3 separate regions of the Homo sapiens genome follow, and all the other regions are linked to region 1. Evidence: fine-mapped expression QTL. A gene starts in region 1. Each other region holds a variant in brackets. All regions are shown on one strand. Distances are from middle to middle.

The links.
Region 2: its variant is fine-mapped to the expression of CCDC191 in aorta (GTEx, PIP 0.98).
Region 3: its variant is fine-mapped to the expression of CCDC191 in whole blood (INTERVAL, PIP 0.98). The same link has a PIP of 0.9 or more in lung.

Annotation. Positions count from the first base shown.
Region 1 is chr3:114,053,164-114,061,351 of GRCh38, reverse strand. CCDC191 (coiled-coil domain containing 191) reads left to right here and starts at 4,826. Exons shown (of 17, transcript NM_020817.2): 1 at 4,826-4,975; 2 at 7,717-7,755. The coding sequence starts at 4,886. It overlaps QTRT2 (queuine tRNA-ribosyltransferase accessory subunit 2), which reads right to left and starts at 4,615. Exons shown (of 10, transcript NM_024638.4): 1 at 4,488-4,615; 2 at 4,246-4,353. RefSeq lists enhancers at 2,067-2,566, 4,675-5,084.
Region 2 is chr3:114,094,021-114,102,208 of GRCh38, reverse strand. No RefSeq gene overlaps it. Among named protein-coding and RNA genes, the nearest start is that of QTRT2, 41 kb to the right of the region's middle. The variant C/A (reference allele first, on the strand shown) is at 4,133.
Region 3 is chr3:114,005,862-114,014,049 of GRCh38, reverse strand. It overlaps CCDC191 (coiled-coil domain containing 191), which reads left to right. Exons shown (of 17, transcript NM_020817.2): 9 at 3,029-3,278; 10 at 8,088-8,188. LOC105374048 (a long non-coding RNA gene) reads right to left here. Exons shown (of 3, transcript XR_924347.4): 2 at 1,170-1,278. Among named protein-coding and RNA genes, the nearest start is that of CCDC191, 47 kb to the left of the region's middle. The variant CG/G (reference allele first, on the strand shown) is at 3,110.

The sequences.
Region 1 (8,188 bases):
TCAGGGTCAGGCTCAAACCTATCAACCTCAGAGACTAAACAATAAAATCAGTATGCACAATTATTTACTCTGAGAATCGAAAAAAGCAAAGTGGATCAGTCAGTGGCATGTTTGCCCTATAGAATGCAATACATGAAGCCAAATATGCCATGCAAGCATAGAATCAGAATGGGAAGAAGAAGGTACATAAAGGCAACTAAAAGGAAACCCATCGGTTTTCTTAACACAGTACCCCCATTCACAGTTCTGCTTTCCAGTTTCAGTTACCCATGGACATCCGAGGTCCAAACATATTAAACGGAAAATTCCTGAAATAAACATAAGTTTGAAATTGCATGCCATTCTGAGTAGCATAATGAAATCTCTCACCATTTTGCTCTGTTCCACCCAGGACGTGAATCATCCCTTTGCCCAGCATCTTCACACTGTAGACGCCACTCGCCCCTTAGTTACTTAGGAGCTGTCACATTGATCAGATCAACCGTCACTGTATTGCAGTGCTTATGTTCAAGTTACCCTTATTTTACTTACGACTGGCCCCACAGCACAAGAGTTGTGATGCTGGCAATACGGATATGCCAAAGGGAAGCCATAAAGTGATCCCTTATGAGAAAAGGTTAAAGTTCTCCAACTAGGAAAAGAAAAAAGACTGTTTGCCGAGGTGACTAACATCTACTACTGTGCCTAATTAATAAATTAAACTTTATTATAGGTATGTATAGATAGGAAACATCATACTGTCTGTCTATTGTCTGTCTATCTATTTAGGGTTTGGATCTATCTAATCTATCTATCTAATCTATCTTATCTATCTATCTATCTATCTATCTATCTATCTATCTATCTATCTATCTACCTACCTACCTACCTACCTACCTATCTATCTGGGGTTTGGAACCATTTGCAGTTTCCAGCATCCACAAGGGGTCTTGGAACATATTCCCCACAGATAAGCGAAGATGACCAAACAACCAATCTCAGATTCTCCAAGGTTGGACACAAGGATTCTCTAAGAGTATAAAGGCAGCCAGACCTGGAAGCCCAGACCATTGGCTTCCAAGACTTACCTTTCTCTCAAAGACTTCTTAGTTTCATCCTTGTGTAAGGAAAGAATGAACATATTCTAGAAGTTCCCATCTTTTAACAAACGAGTCTCAAGTGTGATTAATCATCCACTCAGTCCTGAAGGCATCTTCTCTCTTCTTTCTCATCTCCCCTTCCCTCTCATCTCCCCTTCCCACTCTTTCCTCAACTGAAGAAACAACTTTCTTGATTCTTAACTGAAAGTCTGTAATTAGAGGTCCTTTGTAACTCTAAAGGACATTGGCCACCATGTTCTTAGAGGCAGAGATGGGCTCTCCTGTGATATAATGCTTTAATCCCAAATAACTTTAAAGATGAAATTCAAAATCCTCAGCTTAGAATACTGAACCCACTCAGCCAGCTGGAGAGAAATACCTACTTGGCTTTCTCTACAGTGAACGATTTTGGTGCTACATACTCACTTCTGTTGTTTGGGGCTTCATAAAAGTTCCACCCTAATCACAGTAACTCAACATATTAACGAAGAGAAAAATAAGGAAGCAAAAGCAGATGACTGGGTTTAAGAAAAAGTATTAAAATAAACTGCCATGGTCAGTGATTCTGTTTTGTGGGGATGAATGCAAATATTTTAAAATCTGAGGAAAACATCAGAGATGTACTATACTTCAGCTGGAAATCAATATTTTTTTTAAAAAAATGGAATTTTGTCCAGAGCTAGAAGAACCAAGTCTTCCTTTCTTCATTCATTGTTCAGGTTATGGTAAATGTTTTTTATAATTACACTTCTTTTCTAGAGGCTCAAATACAATAAATTGTTACTATGAAGTAATAAAATAGTACACACACATACACATATTCATGTACATATTTTTAAAAACATGCTTTGAGAGTGATTATTTCCTTTTTTGCCAAGGAAAGTTCAAGAAACAGATCAACAGTCTCCAAAATACTAACTAGTTTTTATTTGCCTTTATCATGATCCCTTCCCTTTTCACTTGTTGTGGGTCTGCTCTAATATTTCTGGTGTCACAGATGGCATTCCTGAGAAAGTCTTAAGGAAAAACCCTTAAGAGTGTAAAGACAAATGACAGGCTGTCAGTGGATCTGTACCTTTACAAGGACTAACAAAGATTCCCTGCACTTCTGGCAACACCGTACCTGTCCTAACACTTCCAGTGCGACCCACCACCTCCACTCTTCATTTATCAGGAGAGAATGGATTTTTAAATGTTTCCTAGCTGGATTCTCTACATACTGCCATGGAAATGTCCAAAATTTCCTAAGGCAAAAGATGGTCATATTTTTTGTGAAAGGAAAGCTGTATATATAAGTACACATCAGCATCTCTTACCCCTCTCTCCCACACATGTACACTTTCTATAATCATAGTATATGCATAGAAAAATGACTGAAGGACTTTTAAACAATGTGGTGCATTGAGCTGACTCAGAAATGACACACAGAAATGAAGAACGCTGGCCGGGCACGGTGGCTCACGCCTGTAATCCCAGCACTCTGGGAGTCCGAAGTGGGAGGAACACCTAAGGTCAGGAGTTCGAGACCAGCCAGGCCAACATGGTGAAACCGTCTCTACTAAAAACACAAAAATCAGCCAGGTGTAGCAGCACATGCCTGTAATACCAGCTACTCCGGAGGCTGAGACAGGAGAATCACTTGAACCCAGGAGGCAGAGGTTGCAGTGAGCCAAAATCATGCCACTGCAGTCCAGCCTGGGTAACAAAGCAAGATGCCGTCTCAAAAAAAAGAAATGAAGAACGCTACAATTCTAGAAAACAGTAAATGAAGATTTTTCCAAGGCATTCGGAAATCGTTACACCATTTGGTAGGGGGAAAGAGATAACGACGACGTTAAACTTTGTTGAGTATGTGTGTTAAAAATTCAGAAGTAACTGTTAAACGATTAATGACAGAATGCATAATTTCCAAACTCACTGGAGAGGGAAGTGGGAAGATAAAGAAAAATGAATTAACCTAATAAAAGGCAAGAAAGGAAAAGAGACCAAAAAAAAGAAATAGAAAACACAAAATAAGATGGTAGAATTCCAAATGTCAGTAATCACAATAAAAGTTAAATTAATTTCACATATAGAAAGACAATAATAGCAACTAACATTTATCGGGTATTTACTATGTATTAAGCACTGTTCTTTATATATTCACTCCATTAATCCTCAGATCAAATGCATAATATAGATACCATTATTATCTGCATTTTATGTATGATAAACTGAGGCTGATAAAATCCCCAGCTGGTAAGTGGCAGAGCAAGGACTTTAATTATTGAAGTCTAGTTTTCAGCGCTGTACTCTAATAGGCTGGGAGCTTATTAGAAGTTCCATCTGGTACACAAGCACATTATAATCTTAGTTTCCATTTTGCTATAGTGTTCTTCTTCTTTTCCCTTTCTCCCTCCCGCCTCTAATCCATCCTCCCAGTCTCTGCAATCTTTCTCCATTCTCATACAAATATTTAAACATACTTGCATATGGGAGGGAGTGTTTTGGTCAGGGTTTGCTTTTACAAAAATGGAAACATATTATACTATAATATATGCACTTCTCTGCAATTTGCTTTTCTCTCAAGAATAAACATTAGACGTCTTTCCTGAAGAAGAGACATAAAGCTAACTTACCCTTTTGAAAAAAACTACTTCGTGGTACTGCATAGTTTGTATGAGCACAATTTATTCAACCGCCTTTCAGACAGACCAGTTACAGAGCTGGTCCTAGGATCGCTGCAACAGTCCGAGGGCATAGCTTCCCTAACTTCATTTTCACCAATTTCAAATCAACTTTAGTTTACATTTCCTGGCAGAATGCTTCACATACATTTATTTTTAATCATTACAACACTCCAGTGATTCAGGTATTATCGTCCCCATTTTGCATGAGAAAACAGGGTCTCTGAGTTATTAAACAAGTTGCCTAGGGTCATATAGCCACAAAGTAGTTGAATTCAAAACTCCTGTTCTAAATCTTTACTCTGCTTTATAAGCCCATTTATCACCCCTAAATGGGCTGTCTCTGGAAACACCTCGGCTAAGCCAATAAGCCTGGATTTATCTTTGCTCCATGGGCCATCTCCATGGCCCCAGACCTCCCTAGGCACCTGGCTCAGAGATTGAAGACGGTCCCACCCTCCCATGGGCAGTTCGGAATAAAAACTTCCTGAAAACTCTACCTTTCAGCAGAGGCTAGTCGAAAGGGGCCCTTTTATCTCAGAGGTGTCGGCGACGCTCACACGATTTATGAGAATCTGAACTTACAGAAACCAATCCACCAGGACACCCTGAAAAGGGAAGCAGAGGAGACATGGCGGGAGTACAATCACCGTTACTGCAACACAACCAGGAAGCGTCTGGACGCGACGTGACTCATCCATCTCTAGCAGCTCCCACACCAGCAGGGCAAAGGGGCACTTACCTGCCAACAAACCATTCGACTCTTTCAGTCTTCAGACCCCTCAAACTCCTCACAGTTCACTACCACGTGTTGCAAAATTCTCTGCCCCAAAATCACTGCCTCCAGTGCAGAGCCAATCAGGGAGTACTGCGTCATCACTGGGCGCCAGAAAAAAAGCAAAGCCGACATTCAAGCGAGCCTTGATGACGGCAAGAGCGAGGGACCTCTGCCGTTGCTATGGTAACTGAGCCAACGCGAGCGGCCTGCGCAGAGCCTCGTGGGAGTGGTGGTTCGACGGTGTCCTATGCCTGCTTTCCTTGCGGGCGGAGGAACTACAATTCCCAGCGTGACCCGGAGGCAGCCCGGGCAGAAGGGCGGTTGCTGCAGCTTTGGCCGAGGTTCGGGCTCGAACTTGGAAAATGCTCCTGGCGCCTCAGGGAAGGTCCTTCTCAAAGAAAAGGATGGGGCTGAATCGCTGGAAACGGTTCACAAGGAAGCCGAGTCCCAAGGTGATCCCAATCGAGAGCTTTGGAGGGCGGGGACTTTCCCAAGGCGCGGCGCAGTCAGGAAGCCAGTCGCGGCCCGTCTGTGCTTCCTGCCTCTTCATCCTGAGCTGACACGCCCCTGCCTTGACCGCCCCAAAGCCAGCATTACCCTGAGTGAAATGCTCTAGGAGCTCTGGGGTCTGGGCACATTACGGCTTTGGTGGGCAGCATCGTGGAAGAACTGTTTGTAACGCTTTTCTAAAACCGGAGGTGTCTGCTAATGCCCATCGGGGTGAAAGGAGTTTGCAAACTCCGTTCCCCCTACCTTAAATTTTAGGAAACTTCTCGCACATTTCTTTCTTTTTCTCTCTCTTTTTTTTTTTTTGCAAATCTTGGGGTAATTGATCTTTATTAACGGGAGAGAGCTTCACATTAAATACCCTGCCTATATTCCTGCCCCTTCACTTTTACGTAAAGTATCTAAATAAACTCAGGAGTGCAAATGGATATTGAATACATTAATACTTGATTCACATAGTAATTTCTAAATTCAACCAACTTTCAAAAAATAGATTCTCTCCGTATCTATCACCCATTTGGATGCATTAGCACCTGAAGATAAGAAAAAAATAATAACCCCATTTTAAACTTGAAACATATGTGACATGTGCAAAGTCACAGTTGCACCGTGTGCTTTCCACAGACTACCTTTTTAACAGTCCCCAAAAAGATGCTTAAAATCTAAATGAGAGTACTAAAATGGAGAAGCTTCTCAGCTTTCAGCTACAGAGCAGTTTCACCAGCTGTTTTCACCCTTAAGTTATACTTTCCTAAATAATATTCTGTAGATGTATGTGGCCTTTTTGAGGGCCCCAGGCGATTGTTCTTGCGATTTATTCTAAATTTACCAGCTAAATGCATTGGACATATTCCACATGACAAATATGTTGCCCTAGATACTAGAGGGCACAGACTGAAGCATCAGGGAGACTTGGAAACTGAGGCTGCTGCTATTTCAATACATCAGTTGCATAATGTATTGGATCCAAGATAGGATATAGATATGGACTTGATGATGAAAGGTAAAAATTTAGAATAATTTCTTAGGACTCCAAAAGGAAGGATTTTTGCTGCTAGTGCTCATTATTACTGCCTAGAGAAAAAAAGGTAAAAACATAGGGCTTCTTCAAGTTCAGTTGTATTTTAATTAGATCAGCTCTTTCTTTGTTGCAGTGACAAAATTATTAAGCAGTACAGCTGCGTTAGTTATCAGTAAGATGCTTTGAAGGTAAAGTGTTAGGTAAGTGAAAGAGTATTATATTTTTCCCACCTCCATGTGTCAGTATGCTAGTTTAGATATCCCCTTATTTTATTATTATTATTATTATTATTATTTTAAAGAGTATATTTGAGTAAGAAGCAATTCATGAACTGGGAACGCCAAACCAAAAGAGATTTAGTGCTCCAATGACAAATCATCAGGATATCCCCTTATTTTAAAAACACACCTGAATTTTTAGTGAAGAAGATAACTCTATTTGTTAAGTGACTATTAGAGGGAATTCTGCAAGCTTCTGGGAGTTTCAGAGGTTGAAGAAAGGAAATGTCCTGATAGTTTTACTTCTAATTTCAGATTAATACCTGACTGATCTGGGTGGAAATTTATATTTTCTGCTTTGTAAAACAGTAAAAGTCAGATTGATTAACCCTCGCCCCATTCCCCAGTTTTTGTTGTTGTTGTTGTTTGTTTGTTTGTTTGTTTTTGAGACAGAGTCTCGCTCTGTCGCCCAGGCTGGAGCGCAGTGGTGCAATCTCGGCTCACTGCAAGCTCCGCCTCTCGGGTTCACGCCATTCTCCTGCCTCAGCCTCCTGAGTAGCTGGGACTACAGGCACCCGCCACCACGCCTGGTTAATTTTTTGTATTTTTTTTTTAGTAGAGACGGGGTTTCACCGTATTAGCCAGGATGGTCTTGATCTCTTGACCTTGTGATCTGCCCGCCTTGGCCTCCCAAAGTGCTGGGATTACAGGCATGAGCCACTGCTCCCGGCCAAAACACACCTGCATTTTTGGCAAAGAAGATAACTCTATTTGTTAAGTGACTATTAGAGGGAATTCTCCAAGCTTCTAGGAGTTACAGAGAGTGAAGAAAGGAAATGCCCTGATGGTTTTACTTCTAATTTCAGATTAATACCTGACTGATCTGGGTGGAAATTTATATTTTCTGCTTTGTAAAACAGTAGAAGTCAGATTTTTTAACCTTCAGTTTTTATTGGGCCAAACAAGATCCCTGATCTGGGTAAGATGAGAAAGCCTCTTGCTACAGGCTACTTATGAAAGGAGTAAGGAGAGGAACACACCCTTCTTTAAGCTAAAGATTACTTGGATAATCTGGCTAATTAATCAGTGCTTTTTTTTTTTAATGAGTAGCTTTATATTTAGCATTTCTATATCTTGACTCTTAACCCTAAGGAGGTTTAAAAAAATAGCAGTGCCAGGGTCCTATCCCAGACCAATTAAATCACAATATCAAGGTGGACCTAGACAAGAAATAAAAACAATCAGTGTCCCAGGAAGGCTTCATGTTTTCTCCTCATACTGCTATTCTGTGTCTTTTATTGCTAATCATGCTGAACTTTCTAATGAAATGCTTTGGGGAAATAATAAAGGACACTGTTCCATATGCTTTAGTCAGAAGGATAGATTTAAATGGCAAAGTTGATAAAGATATTGCTGCGTATTGATATCATATATATGTTATCTACAGCCTACTTTTGGTCCTGACAGTGTGGAACACTGGATAAAGGTAAGGATATTTCAAATTTAGAATAAAAAGAGTATTAAGAGTCAAGCATAATCAGATGGAAAAGAAATATGAATAGATCTCCACTTTGCACATACTCTGCTATTTTTATTCCCGTGTGACTATGTAAGTTGCCTTAATTTTATACTTTTTAGTATTTTTTTTCATAATTCTGTTGCCTCTCATGATACCATTTAAGTAGGAATGACAAGAAAACAGGTGTGTAGACTTCGTTTCAAATGCCATGAGTATCACATGAAGAGGATTAAAGGAGTTGTGAAAAGAAGCCTTGGGAGAGGATATGGTGGCCTTCCTCAGATGTTGGAAAGACTGCACTGTAGTTACAATGACCTAGGGACTAATGGGTGAAAACTACGTGTGCATCACAAATAAGAATTTTCTAATGACTAGTCCATCCAAAAGTGGACTGGGTGTT
Region 2 (8,188 bases), 41 kb before region 1:
AACCAGGAAATAGAATGATATCAAATATATTAAAAATAAATGTTCAATCATTGGATTTAAAGTTGATGATGTACTTAACATGGATGTATCCAGCTGTAATACCTGGACCACTGATCAATCTTAGCACAAAAAAGATGGCCCACCATTGTGTACTTCCAGATGGAATAACACATCATCACCTATGAAACAGTCTTGCAAAAAAAATCAAACCTGAACCTGCTCAATCCTTTAGATTAGCACTATCCAACAGAAATATAATGCAAACCACATGTATAATTTTAAGTTTTCTACTAGCCTCATTAAAAAAGTAAAAATGAATAGGTGAAAACAATTTTAACATATTTTTATTGAATCTAACATATTCAAAAATCATTGAAATTATGATTGAAGCATTGAAATTACAATTGATTGATTGATTATAATCAATGTAAAAATAATTAATATTTTATATCTTTTTCTGTTAAGTTTTGGAAATGTGTTGTATTTTTACATTATCAGCACATCACAATTGAGACTAGTTGCAATTCAAGCACTGAGTAGCCATATGGATGCTGATTCAAACAAACTAACAGAAAAAAATTATGAGATGATGGAGGAAACGTGAATACCATCAGAATATTTGGTTATAGTGAGAGCTTATTATTTCTTTTCAGGTATAATAACAGTACTGTGTTTAAGTTTTTAAAGAGAGCCCTTATCTTTTAGATGCATATTGAAATATTTATGAATGAGATTATATAACATCTAGGATTTGCATCAAAATAATCCAGTGATGTCTGTATGGGGAGTGAATAAGAATGCAGAAGACACAAGATTGGCTATGAGCTGATTGGTTGAAACTAAGAAAATGACACCAGCTTTCTGTTTAATGTTACTGTTGAAGAATAGAGAGGGTCTTGTTCATTGAACCCACTACAAATGAGATAATGGAATTAGGATTAGCTGTTATTACTGTCAATCACTTCTGACCCAAGGGGAGGTTATAACAATGGCTAGAATGCTTCCTCTGACTGTGAAGCAGACGTCCAATTGTGGATGATATTTCTGCCACCCTACTGCTGAGGAAAAAAAAAAAAAAAGATTGTGGCTCTAAATCTACTCTGTTATATGAAAAAAATGAAGAAATTTCAGCTACTCTCAGGGAAGAAAATAAATGTTTCCAACCCAGCTTGAATCAGAGTGTTCCTAGGGGAGAAGCTAGTATGGTGGAGATGGCGCTAACCCAAATATGAAACCTCCCAATGGGAAGTTAACACTCAGAGTGAGAAGACTGAGCTACTGTGATCAGTTAACCATTCCCTCATGGAATATCACTTTCTTTCTGGTACTAAACTTTGGAAGTCTGCATTTTGTTTTATCAGAGAAGGCAATGATCCTTTCTTTTGTATTACTCCCATAGACTAGTCAGTCAGCGAATTGTGAATAATGGGATGAATGATGGAAAGATAATCAGAGAGGAAAAAGGGCACTGTGGGAAGAACATGGTCAGATCTGGGAGGAATTTTCAGGCCATTTTATTAGTGGCCTGGAATTTTATTCCCTTGGTAAAGCAAAGCTCTATGCATCTTTTTTATTGAGAGCCAGGGTCTCACTCAGTAGCCCAGACTGGAGTACAGTGGCGTGATTATAGCTCACTGTAGCCTTGAATTCCTGGGTTCAAGCAATTCTCCCACCTCAGCCTCCTGAGTAGGTAGGGCTACAAGCATGAGCCTATTTTTTTGTATGGTAGCTGCACTACAAGCATCCAGCTATTTTTTGGGGTGGGGGATGGTAGAAATGGTGTCTTACTTTGTTGCTCAGACTGGTATCAAACTCCTGGTCTCAGGAGATTCTCTGCTTCAGCCTCTCAAAGCTCTGGGATTATAGGCATTGCACCCTATATATTGTGTTTTAAAGTACCAATTCAACTGTTTTTTTTTATTGTCCCCATAAGTACAGTAGATTCATATTTATCAACCAGAATATTCTTATTTTAGTTGAGAAAACAAGGTGAGAAAGACTTTCACCTTTTCATACCATAGTTCTTTGTATATTCCACTAGCAAAGTGATTATTATGCTGTTTTGTAATGAAGTATTTATTTCATCCACTAAGCTGTGATTTCAAAAGCAAAAACCTTGACATTTTCACCTTTGAATCTCCACCATCCAAAAAATGTGGGGCATAGTAAGAGGCAATACATGTTGAATGAATAGACTATCCATTCAACAAATATTGAGCATCCAAATTGGTGAACAGTACAAAATGGCAACTTTGAAAATCTCCAAATGAACATGTCAAATGTGGCTTCTTAGCTAGGATCTTATCACTGACTTCAAAATCACATTTTAAAAAAAAACTCCAGTAAGTTAAGCCTGACCTCCTCATAAAACATGGCTTTTTTTTTAATTTAAAAAAAATTAATAGAGACAAGGTCTTGCTATGTTGCCCAGGCTGGCCTTGAACTTCTGGGCTCAAGCAATCCTCCTGCCTTGGCCTCCCAAAGTGCTGGGATTGCAAGCATGAACCACCATACCTGGCCTCAATTGATTTTTGAGACAGAGTCTTGCTCTGTCACTCTGGCTAGAATGCAATAGTGTGATCATGCTCACTGCAGCCTCCAACTTCTAAGCTCAAGCAATCTTCCCAATTCAGCCTCCCAAGTAGCTGGGACTAGAGGTGCATGCCACATCACCAGGCTAATTTTTAAATTTTTTGTATATATGTGGTTTATCTTTGTTGCCCAGGCTGGTCTCAAACTCCTGGCCTCAAGAGATCCTCCTGCCTCAGCCTTTGCTAAAGTGCTGGGATTACAGGTGTGAGTCACTGCATCCAGCTGAGACATGGATTTAAATGACTTTGTTATTTTCTAAAATTTAAAGCATATATACAATGCTATCATTAGAAATACTCAACCGAATGTACTGCCCAGTCTGAGTTCCTTTCCTGAACTCTATTTCCAAATGTTGCTCCAAAAAGGTTTTTAGTAAATGGGATGTCATTAGGAAAGGTCTCTACTCCCCTGATTATCTTCTTAGATGTCAAGATTAAATCACTTTTCCCAAAATTGTGTTAATAAAATCAGGACATGGCTGGGTGCAGTGGCTCTATTATGCCTGTAATCCCAGTATTTTGGGAGGCTGAGGTGGGTGGATCACTTGAGGTCAGGAGTTCGAAACCAGCCTGGCCAACATGGCAAAACCCCCACCTCTACTAAAAATATAATAACTAGCTGGGCGTGGTGGCATGCACGTGTAGACCCAGCTACCAGGGAGGTCGAGGTGGGAGAATCACTTGAACCTGGGAGACAGAGTTTATAGTGTGCTGAGATTGCACCACTGTACTCCAGCCTGGGCAACAGAACAAGACTGTCTCAAAAAAATAAAATAAAATAAATAAATAAACAAAATCAGGACATGACTTTGTAGAAACACATTTATTAAGAGTGAGGAGGTTATATTGTTTTTATATTCATTGCAGTGTCTTACCCTGGCCCCCAGGCGACAGTGAGTGAGAAGGGAAGGAGAACAGAAATAATAGCACAGGCTCTTCAAGCAGATATTCCTGAAGTCAAAGTGATTTTATTTTATTCATTTTGTTATTTTATCAGGCAGCCTCTTGAGCCAGAGTAGGCGCTGAAACTCCCTATTTTTACTATTATTATTATTATTTTTTTTAATGGAGACATGGTCTCCCCATACTGCCTGGGCTGGTCTCAAACTCCTGGCTATGAGCCACTGTGCCCAGCCCAGAATTATTTAAAACAGTTACTTGACTGTTTCAGCCCTGTTTCCTCAAATATAAAATGGGAACAATCATACTTCTAGGGTGCTTACAGATTTGTTGGGAACCTTAAGATGCAGAACACTCAGGGCGGGGTGCAGTGGCTCACGCCTGTAGTGCCAGCACTTTGGGAGGCTGAGGCAGGTGGATCACTTGAGCTCAGGAGTTCAAAATCAGCCTGGGCAACATGGCAAAACCCCATCTTGTGGTGGCGCATGCCTGTAGTCCCAGCTCCTGGGAAGGTTGGGGCAGGAGGATTACCTTGAGCCCGGGAGATGGAGGTTGCAGTGAGCCAAGATCATTCCACTGCACTCCATTGTGGGCAACAGAGCAAAAACCTGTCTCAAAAAAGAAGAGAAAGAGAGGCCAGG[C/A]GTGGTGGCTCACTCCTGTAATCCCAGCACTCTGGGAGGCCGAGGTGGGCAGATCACCTGAGGTCAGGAGTTCAAGACCAGCCTGACCAACATGGAGAAACCCCATCTCTACTAAAAATACAAAAAAAAAAAAATTAGCCAGGTGTGATGGCGCATGCTACTCGGGAGGCTGAGGCAGGAGAATTGCTTGAACCTGGGAGGCGGAGGTTGCGGTGAGCCGAGATCATGCCATTGCACTCCAGCCTGGGCAACAAGAGCAAAACTCTGTCTCAAAAGAAAAGAAAAGAAAAGAAAGAGAGAGAGGAAGGGAGGAAGGAAGGGAGGAAGGAAGGGAGGGAGGGAAGGAAAAAGAACACTCAAACAGAATTAATGTTGAGCTAATCAAGGCAGCTAAGAGGCAAATTCAACTCATTAATTTGGTCTGTAGTTCTTTCCTTAATAATGAGTAGATAATGAAATGTAAACCACTAACATTTTGATTTTCTTTACCCATAGATACTGTCATGTGGTGATTTTCCACCTTCTGTCATCTCTTAGTGAAACAGCCTTTGCAAAATTATGACAGTGGGAGAATTATGACAGTGCAAGATATCTGACCTAACTGACTCCATCTTGCTTCTAACCACCAAGCTGCCCCTGTTCATTCTTGGGCATGAGGCTGAACTAACTTTGGGAGAAACTTAGTTTATAGTTTAACTTTAAAACAAAGATAATAACAGCCCTTTCCCAAAACAAACCCTCTTCTCGCTTGGGGACCAGGCTGCCTTTGTAAGACTAACTAGCCACAAGATTAGAAATTATGGTTTAGGAGTCATGCGGCTAGACACCACAAGATTCTAAACCTCCCCAGTTGCTCCTAGGGATAACATCACTATCATAAAACGTAAGACTGGTGCTCATGATATTTTGCAGACCTTGTGCTCTGATGCACCAACTGGTGCCACCCAGACCAGTAATCTGGCTCAACCAGCACTGCAATCCCACCTAGGAGCAGGAGACAGTAAGACGAATCCACTTTGACCCCATATGATTTCATCTCTGACCCAACCAATCAGCGACCCCCACTCCCTGGTCCCCTACCTGCCAGATTATCCTTTAAAAACCCGAGTCTCCAAATTTTGGGGGAGACTGATTTGAGTAACAGAACTCTGGTCTCCATTTAGCAGGCTCTGCATGAATTAAACTCTTTCTCTATTCCAATTCCCCTGTCTTAAATCAGCTCTCTCTGGGCAGTGGGCAAGGAGAACCCATTGGGTGGTTACATTAGGTTGGACTTTGATTTGACAGACTACATGAGTAAAGTGAAGCTTTCTAACTCTATGTAGAATATACGTAATTTTGGAGTTTGCTCCTGGTCTATAAATTGCGAGAAGGCAAGTAGGGTTTTTGTCATTTAATCCAGTGTCTGGAGAGCACTTGACACTTAGTTGGCAGTGGATTAATCTTTCTTGACTAGGTGAATAAATGAATTCTAAGTATCAGAGAATTAGGATGGGGAAGACATACACAAATGAGCAAAATCCTTGGTACCAATATATTGGGAAGTCCCTGATTAAGATTGGGTTGTATGTGCTTATCGGCTGGGACAAATTCCATAGACTATCAAGGACCTGTGAGAAAAAGACAGGATCTCCTGATGAGGCCCTGGAAGATGCTCACTTCCTCCCCTCTTCTGATAAAAACCAGCAACCAACAAAAATTATTAAAGTATAATTATAGGAGGGGCATAGGCCAGGGAGGGAATTATAAATGGCATAATATATTGGAAAGGGCTTGGTCTATATATCTTTCTGAGCTGGGTTTGAGACATCTTTTTCCAAATTCCATTATATCCACAGTCATAATAACGAAGTCTCCTAAAATGTATCTACAAACAGAATGGTCTCTGTGTTCAAGAATCACTGTTATCCCAGCAGCCAGAAAGGCTATAGTCACTGTCAGAGTAGCAATAATAATGTCTGTACCACACCTAGTTTGTGAGGTACAAGTTACCAACGAGGCTGAATAGAGGCAGAACAAGAGATAAGGACTCAGAGAAGAATTGGGGTGGAAAAGGAAACCTAGACTCTAGTTCTAGCCTTGCCTCTCATTTCCTGTTGGACCTTGGGTTAGTCACACACTGTCTGGGCCTGGGTTCTGCCTCTGTCAAATGAAGGGGTTGGATAGATAATTTGTAACATTCCTTCTGGCTCTAAAATCATACACTATGTGTTACCAAAGAAGCTTCTTTCTGACAAAGAGAAAGACTAAGCTATTTTTTTCCCTTTCTACGATTTAAACGTCCTTTTGCTTTTCATTTATATGCGAATGTATGAGATTTTAACCAAAACAAAATTAGCATCTCTGGGTCACTCCTCAGCCCTCTTATCATTAAAATGTAGTTCAGATTTCTGAGACCACAAATAGAAAGAGGAATAGTTAATAAGTTATCCCAACTTACCAGTCCTTAATACCACGGAGTAATTATGGGGGTAGCCCAGAGGGCAAATAGGAGAGGTTCAGAGTACACAAAAGTTCAGTTTGGGATAGGCCTCCACCTATTTTTTTTTTTTTTTTTTTTTTGAGGCGGAGTCTCACTCTGTCGCCCAGGCTGGAGTGCAGTGGCGCAATCTTGGCTCACTGCAAGCTCCACCTCCCGGGTTCATGCCATTCTCCCGGCTCAGCCTCCAAAGTAGCTGGGACTACAGGCGCCCGCCACCACGCCCGGCTAATTTTGTTTTTGTATTTTTAGTAGAGATGGGGTTTCACCGTGTTAGCCAGGATGGTCTCGATCTCCTGACCTTGCGATCCGCCCGCTTCGGCCTCCCAAAGTGCTGGGATTACAGGCGTGAGCCACCGCGCCCAGCTGCCTCCACCTACTTTTGGTCGTTGTTCTTGAAGGAGAGCAGATGCTCTGCATAAGAAAAACACAATTTAGGAAGGTCCGGGGTAAAATGGGGAAAATCCTGGGCTTTTGAGTCATAGTGCTGAGTTCAGAGTTCAAATCCTGGATCCCTTGCTTTGTGTCTTTTTTTTTTTGAGACAGTCTTGCTCTGTTACTGAGGCTGGGGTTCATTGCTCACTGCAGCCTCAAACTCCTTGGCTCGAGTGATCGTCCCTCCTTGGTTTCCAGAGTAGCCAGGACTACAGGTGTGTACCACCATGCCCAGCTAGTTATTTTTTATTTTTTGTAGAGATAGGGGTCTTGCTTTGTTGCCCAGGCTTGTCTCACACTCCTGGCCCCAAGTGATCCTCCCACTTTGGCCTCTCAAAGTGCTGGAACTAAGGCATGAGCCATCACACCCAGCCCAATTTCTCCTCTGTAAATTGGAAAAGATAATGTCAACCTCAGAGGGTTGCCATGAGCAATAAAGAAGGTAATGGATGGATCACGAAGTCAGGAGATCGAGAGCATCGTGGTTAACACGGTGAAACCCTGTCTCTACTAAAAAAAAAAAAAATACAAAAAATTAGCCGGGCATGGTATCATGCACCTGTGGTTCCAGCTACTCGGGAGGCTGAGGCAGGAGAATCACTTGAATCTAGGAGGCGGAGGTTCCAGTGAGCCGGGAACACCACTGCACTCCAGCCTGGCAACAGAGCGAGACTCCATCTTAAAAAAATAAAAATAAAAATAAAAAAGAAGGTAATGGATAAGGCACAGACAGAATTGAACAAATTATAATGAAAAAAGAAACGGATAAAGTGATGTGTTAAAGATGGAGAAGTAGAGAACATACTACAGACACATGATGAGAAGAAAATTAATCACACATTCTCCCTTAATTTCAGTGGGGCAGGGGTGAGGGTGCAGACACGGCAAATGCTGAGGGATTATCTTTCCCTTACAGAGCTGATAGTCTGGTTGGAAGATGAGGCTCACAGAACTGAAGCACTGATTAAATCAGATGCCTAGAGCACTGGTTGCTGGTGCCTTTATGAACAAAGGAAATCAGAATAGAAGCCTCTCCTCTTCCAATCTTGAGACTCTAGAATTCTAGAAAAGCAAGTTTTTATGGAAGGTTTGGTTCTTGGGCTGGACCTTGAGAATGGGTAGGATTAGGATATAACCACTTA
Region 3 (8,188 bases), 47 kb after region 1:
ATCTAGTAGTCTTGTCCTAAGACAGTGGGTATTACCTTACATGTGAATTTTGTTCTATATTTTCAGGGTTGTTTTAAATTGAATTAGATTCTCAGGAAAAAAACTCTTGTAGGATAGGCAGCATAATAGGGCTTACTGACACTGTTTTTGAGGATGAATCTGGGGCTTAGAAACTCAGTTGCTGTCCCAGTGTCCCATGTCTAGTTAGCATTCTTCTTCTGACTTGTAAGTTCCAAAACATGCACCAGTCACCCAGTATCATTGAGTGTTCATCCTGGGCAGCAAGGTTCATACTTAAATTCCTATTCAAACCTTTTGTATTTTATATTCTTAGATGAGCAGAGCCTGCCTTTCTCTGCATGCAGTTATATATCATTGTGATGATCAATTTATATACTCTGGCTAGAAATTCCCTGATTTCAGATTGCAAGGAAATTGGGATAGGCTATTTTTCATAAGGGAACTCTGCCCTTCCATTTATGATTATCTGGCACCTATGTCTGAAACCATTTCTTTAGGTGAGCATACCAAAGTAAGTTGCATCTGACTAAGGTTTAAGAAATTTAAGTGATTTTTCGCTTTTAGAAATATTTATGTTTTAGTGTTATCTTTTAGAAAGTATAGAAATTGGCTTATATGCAACATTGTCACTCTGCTGAAGTGAGCTACAAGAAAACAGTAGTGGAACTATCCTTGTCTCTGGATCTCTAGCTTCTGTGCTTCTGCCTTTCTGCCTCAAACCACAAATACAGATATCGTAACTACATTTTCTGTTTTTTCTTTTTTACTTTTTTTTTTTTCTTTGACACAGGGTCTCACTCTGTTGCCCAGGCTGGAGTGCAGTGGCACAATCTCGGCTCACTGCAATTTCCACTTCCCAGGCTCAGGTGATCCTCCCACTTCAGCCTCCCAAGTAGCTGGGACTACAGGCACTCACCACCACGCCCAGCTAATTTTTATATTTTTTGTAGAGATGAAGTTTCACTATGTGGCCCAAGTCTCAAACTCCTGGGCTCAAGTGATCCACTCACCTCAGCCTCCCAAATTCCTGTGATTACAGGCATCAGCCACTGCGCCTGGCCAACTACATTTTCATATCCCCGCACAACCATTATAGAGTGGGCTTTAAGCCCTATATTGAACATGCATTTTTTTACTCATTTTCTTACTTTTTTAGTCTTGTTATAGTTACAGAAGTGTTTCTCTCTTTGCCTTTTCATAATGTCCAAATAATCTCCTTGACAGTCAAAACCCCAGTGCTGCTTTTGGCTGTTTGTGCTGTAAAAACAGGAAATTAATACATCAGGTAAATTTCACACTCCTCCTTCCAGAGCAGATTGATGGAAATTGAATTTCACATTAATCAGACACAGCAATGTACATCTTCTATCCTGTAGAAATTTATGATTTTTACTCACTTGAATAAAGTGTTACAGGGTTTTTTTGTTCACTATTTATACACTGATTTTTAGAGCTTTGTTCTTACCTGTGTTGCTATCTGATTTATTGTTATTTCTTCTAAAATTTTTATTTCAAGATTATTCAGTCTCAGATATTTGTTTTCATAAAAGTAAAACATACATAAATGTTTATTACCACCTATATTATACTTTTATTACAAAAACCATCAGTGAGTGAATTTCTAAATATTTATTGAGTACCTATCAATGCATTAGAAGGAAACAATTAAATATAATGAAATATGCTGTTAGCAGGGTTGCTTATTTTTAAAAGAAATATAGAATAGATTAGAAATATCAGAGTATATCTCTTGTGGTAAGGGTAAATATTATTTGGTGAAACTTTTACACACACACACACACACACGTATATTGAGTCACAATGTGACATTTTTTCTTACTGTAGGTTGCAGTCAAAAAAAGGTTTAAAAGTCGTATAAACATTTAAGAACTGTAGAAATGGTCTCCTGACTCACTGAGTTAAGAACTTTATGATTTGCTTGATATGACCCCAAAGAGTCCATGAGGAGACTTAAGCATTATGTATGTTTAACAGAAATGGATATGGAGAACTTATATGAGTCACCTTTCCAAGATACAATCCAGTGTGTGTCTAAACAGTATATTTTGAACCTCAAAGCTGATCCCTGATACTACATAATAAGTTCCACACTCACAGCTAAGTTCTTCAGGATAATAACCATTCACTTATAGATAGATCTCAGACCTCTATGTTTGAATTCTCAACTGACTGCCACCAAATCTCCTAATGCAGATTCCCATTGGGAAGAAAATGTGGCTGGCAGTAACACCACATCCCAACCTCCCCTCAGTCATATTCCCTAACATTTATAAAGTTTCCAGGAATCAAAGTGAGCTCTTCCTTAGGAAGGTGTAGAAAATAAATGAGTTCCATGAGACCAGGGGCCTTGCCTTTGCCCTTTACACATCTAGTGCTTAGCAAGTACCTTCTTGGGGCAGACATGCATTCAGTTCAAGGGTTTGGTAAATGAGTCCTTCTCTTTAGCAGTCCTTTCCCTGACCAGTTCTTCTTTCACAAGATCAACCCTCAGTGTTACTTTGATTTTTGTAAGCCTTTTACTTAAATTATTGACAATTTAACTTGTTAAGTGTTATAATTTTGTTGCTTTCTCTTTCTCCTAAACCTGTCTTTTTAAAATTTTCGTGCATAGCTGAACCTCTGTCTCCCTCATGCATTCATCTTTTTAAAGTCATTACTTGTGTACCTCTTCTTTTTGCTCTTTCCCCTCCAAAAGCTTTCAGAAACTATGGTAATCAAAAACATGTAACATGCCCTTGTGACATGAGAACAGAACAGTTCCTCTTTCTTCTTGAAGGTAATCTGTTGAAGTGCTGACACCTTCTATGAGGAGATCCTTTGCACTGGGGAATTTATAAAGCAATTTCATTTAGCTTAATATAAAATGTTAAGCGAGAGCTAAGATGGAGCATTTCTAGAACCCTTTTGGACTTATGTTTCATTTATATTATCAATTAACAAACTGTAAATGGCTTCTTTATTTTAATGGAAGTGCTTTGTTGCTTAGAAAACAACAACTGGCCACTGAGTATAACCGGAAACAAGTTCTCCGACACTGCTTTACAGAATGGCAGCATTGGCATGGCGC[CG/G]AGCTCCTGAAGAGAGAGCTGGCTCTCACAAAAGAGGAAACTAGGAAGAAGATGGATGCACTGCTGCAGGCAGCATCACTGGGGAAACTCAGTGCCAATGGGTTATCAGGCATCAGTCTACCTGAGGAGGCAACAGCCATGGTGGGTCCACCAGTAAAAAATGGACAGGTACGTTGTTTTTCCTGCTTAGTAAACACTTGCATTTGAGGTTTGTGCTTTTATAGCTGGTATGTCAGTCATTGTCAGATTGCTTTGTCTAGGCTATCAGAAGATTAGAGCTGCCTCAATGCACTACCTTTCAGGCAGTGTTTATTTCCTTGAATTGAATCTTCTTTTTATAATCATATATAAACTTTGGCATCATTGGAAGTTAGTAGGGATTTAATATCGAAAGGGCATTTAAAACAACTAAGTAAAATATTCGTTTAGGAAAAGACAGGTAAAGCACTGTCTATAACTCTTGAACTCCCCTTTTTGATCATCAGACATTTCCTTTCTAAATGAGTTTGTGACTTACAAGAGGGGAAATTTAAAATTTTTCTTTTTCTAATAAGAAAAGTCATATGTACTAATTGTAGCAATTTGATAGAAGATCACAGAGAAAAACTCCTATAATTCTGTCATCTATAGATAATCACTAATAACATGTTAAAGTATAGCCATCTAGTCTTTAAGCATATGCAAATTTATCTCTTAATATTTTATTTAGCTTTTAAATTTTCTTTAGTCAGGCCATTGAGGAACTCGTCTGCCAAAATTCAGGAAAAGGAAGGCCATGTTTTTTTTTCCTTCTTAATACTAATACTTACTGTTCTTCTAAAAAAAAAATTACGTTTTCACAATATAACATGAGCATTTTCTGTCATTACATACACTTCTGCAATAGTAGTTCTCAACTGAGAGTATACCTCAGAATCACATCTACTAAAACAGAATTTTTGGGTGTGGGGCAGCTCTTTTTTTTTAAGTTCCGCAAGTGGACGTAATACATATCCCCTGTCTAAGGACTAGTATTCTGTGCCACCATTTTGTAATGGCTACATGATACTCTGTAATGAACCATAAGCTGGAATTTGTTTAGCTCCTGTATTACTGGAATTTAAGTTGTTTCCAGTTTGCCGCCATTGTGAACAATGCTTCAGTGAACATCCTAGTAGCTAAATCTGCACATATCCATAATGCTTTACTTAGGATAATACCTAAAAATGGAATGCATGTTCTATTTTCATCTTATTATTGCTTCAACATTTGTATCTCTTTGATTACTAGTAAGGTTAAACATTTTTATATTGAATATACACTTGTGCACCACATAGCAATGTTTTGGCGAATGACTGACCACATACACAGTGGTGGTCCCATAAGATTATAATGGAGCCAAAAAGTTCCTCTTGCTTAGTGACTTCTTGATGATCTTGACCCTGTGTAGTCCTTGGCTAATATGTGTGTTTGTATCTTAGTTTTTAACAAAAATGTGTTTTAAAATTTTTTTAAAAAACAACCTCTTTAAAAACAGGAAAAAAAAGCTTATGGAATAAGTATATAAAGAAGGAAAATATTTTTGTACAGCTGTGCAATGTTTGTGTTTTAAGCTGTTACTTTATAAAAGAGTCAAAAAGTTAATAATTTAAAAGTTTATAAAATAGAAAGTTACAGTAAGCTAGGATTAATTCATCACTGAAGAAAAAAAATTCTAATAAATTTAGTGTGGCCTAAGTATACAATGTCTATGAAGTCTGCACTAGTATATAATAATGTCCTAGGCCTTCACATTCACTCATCTAGAGCAACTTCCAGTCCTGCAAGTGCCATTCATGGTAAGTGCCCCCATACAGGTGTACCATTTTTTATCTTGTATACTGTTTTTACTGTACCTTTTCTATGTTTAGATATGCAAATACTTCCCATGTGTTACAGTTGCCTACAGTATTCCGTATAGTAACATCCTGCCCTGGTTGGTAGACTAGGGGCAATAGGCTATACCATATAGCCTAGATGCAGTAGACTATACCATCCTGGTTTGTGTAAGTACACTCTACAGTGTTTACACAACAAAATCACCTATTTCTCAGAACAAATCCCCATTATTCAGCAATGCATGACTGTATATATATCTATATATGGATGTAGTAAGATACAGATATATAGTGACTTGTCTCTTCATGCCCTTTGTCCATTTTTCTATTTGATATCTTTTTCTTATTTATAAGAGTTCTTTATATTTTAAGACTATTGATGCTTTTATTATTATATATTGCAAACATTTTTTCCATTTTGTCATTTGTCTTTTTGGTTTAGTTATGGTGTTTGGTATTATACACAGTTGTTTAGTTTTTATAAAGTCAATCCTGTCGGCTTCTTCTTTTATCACTGCTCTTGTCATGTTTAGAAAACCTTGTGGAGAAGAGCTTCTACCCCCTCACCTCCACCCTCCACATAATGCTGTTAAGTACTTAATTCAGACATGTGAAATTAAATTGTGCACTAGAGGGTCCCCAGCCTTGCTTTTTACCCTGATTATTGCTAGCAAGTAGGCTAGTTTTAATTTAAGCTTATTCTCTGAGCAAGGGGGGATCAGGAAGATGCTTGTTGGGACTTATGTGTAACATTTTGGTCCCTTCCCCTAGGCAATGTATCTACCTTTATGGCAGATAATTTTGTCTCCATTGAGACCCAAGACAGACTTCTATCTTAAGAAAGAGCTGTATGGAACCTTTTACCTTACAAAGTGCCACTGTTCTTAAATGAAAAAAAAAAAAAAGTCAGCAGAAAGTATTTTTTACCTGTGCAAAACAGAAAAATTACTATATATATGTAGTAATTTATATATAGTAATATATATAGTAATTTATATATATAGTAATATATATAGTAATTTATATATATAGTAATATATATATAGTAATTTATATATATTTAGACTCAAGGGAACAAAAGACTCCAAATCTCTGAAATCAAGAACAAAAGACTTTATCAAGAAAGGACAGTATTGTTAAAAATGGAGCAAATGATAATAGAGGGCTACAATAGACCCTGTAGAGACTAAGTAAACTAATCTTTTTCCAGCGTGTACAGCAAAACATGACCAAGTGAAAATATAAAATCTTTAGTTAGATGCTCATTAATTATACAGTCATAGGAACTCATGTACTAAGAACACACAAACTGTACCTTGAATTTTTCCAAAATTATCAGTTAGCTAATAGGTGATTTTCTCTAATTAAGTCAGACCATTCACTCCTGCTCTATTAAGTACTATCTGTACCACTAAGCTTTTCCTTCATGTTCTTTATTTTCATGTTAAAAAGTTACCATGATCCAAAAGAAACCCTGTCGCTTTACTCAGGGCTTTGACACAGTCTTGCTAGGTTAATAAGGTGTCATTACCACCAAGTTTAAAAGAACCTAAAACATATACCCTGCTTGATATAAATTGCTTAAGCAGGTGTTCTCATGAATAAGTGTTCACTGACATTACTGAAATAAAAGGTTACTTTTAAAAGTGTTTAACATGTCAGAGTTTCCATATATCACATCTTTCATTTCAGTTGAGTCTATGGAAAGCATTTCTATAATCGTGAAAAATATTTTTGAGTCCCTAAGGATGGGGTCCTGTTAGAACAAGAAGCTTCTGATATTTAGATAGCTCATAGCATTTTTCTCTTTAAGCCATTGCAGATGGCAGAATCAAAAACTTAGACCTTAGAACATGGACTCAAACCATTCTAGAAGAGACACTTTAATATGACATTATTTTGGCCAAGATAGCTGTTTCTAAATAAAAATTCTTGTTTCCTTCCCCTCTGTATAGAACTTGTAATTGAGTATGGTACCTCAGTCTATTAAATGGGATTTATGTAATAAAGCTTTGAAAACTAGTGATATGCTAATACAAAATATTATTAGGTAACATTATTCTTATGTAATGCAGATATTTGCCCAGTGATCCTGAGCTTCCAAATATTTCCCACCCATAGATAGTTTGTAATGCAGATATTTGCCCAGTGATCCTGAGCTTCCAAATATTTCCCACCCATAGATAGTTCAGGAATAGCTGGAAACGGTTAGCTAGGCTTTAACGGGACCTTGATGCTGAAATAACTAAATATCCTATACTATGGCATATGATTAATTTACTAGTGTCAGGAGAGGCATTGAAAGAAAAGAGATATATTATTCATTTGTAAAGATATTCTTTGGTTTTCAGACATTCTCGAGAAAGAATATATCCTTTGCCACAACATCTTCAAATTTCCACTAAAATTCAGAGTCAATTTATGCATATTAAATTCATGTTTTTTATATATAAAATATATATATTTATATATATATATATATATATATATATATATCTGGAGTAACCTTGCCTAATTCACAAATGAACTGTCCAAATTAGAAATTTATAAGAGAAGATTTTTGCTATTACGAATGTCCTGGCCCATGGCAATGGTTCATACAGCTGTAGCCACTCTCCCAGTTTTCTTTTTTTTTGAGCCAGGGTCTCGCTGTGTTGCCCAGGCTGGAGTTCAGTAGCACAATCTCAGCCCACTGCAACCTCCACTTCCCAGGTTCAAGCGATTCTCCTGCATCAGCCTCCTGAGTAGCTGGGATTACAGGTGCGTACCACCATGCCTGGCCAACTTTTGTACCTTTAGTAGAGACAGGGTTTCACCATGTTGGCCAGGCTGATCTCAATCTCCTGACCTTAAGTCATCTGCCCATCTCGGCCTCCCAACGTGCTGGGATTACAGGCATGAGCCACCACAGCCGGCCACTCTCCCAGTTTTCATGGTGAGCAGCAATGCATGTTTTAAGAGTGGTGGCCTCTGAGGTAGCCAGGCCAGGAGCACAGACCACCTTTACCTGCAATACATGGCAGTTGTGCCATTAAACAAAACAATACTGACCTCATAAATGTTGGATTTCATCAGCACAGTCCTTTAAATAGTTGAGCTATAACATGTTTCTCTCTCTCAGGAGACTGCTGTGCCCCCTTTGTGGGAAAAGCCTCCCTTGGGAAGCAGTGGTTGTATGCTCAGTCCTCCCCTGGGAAGAACAACAACAGGCAACTTGCAGGG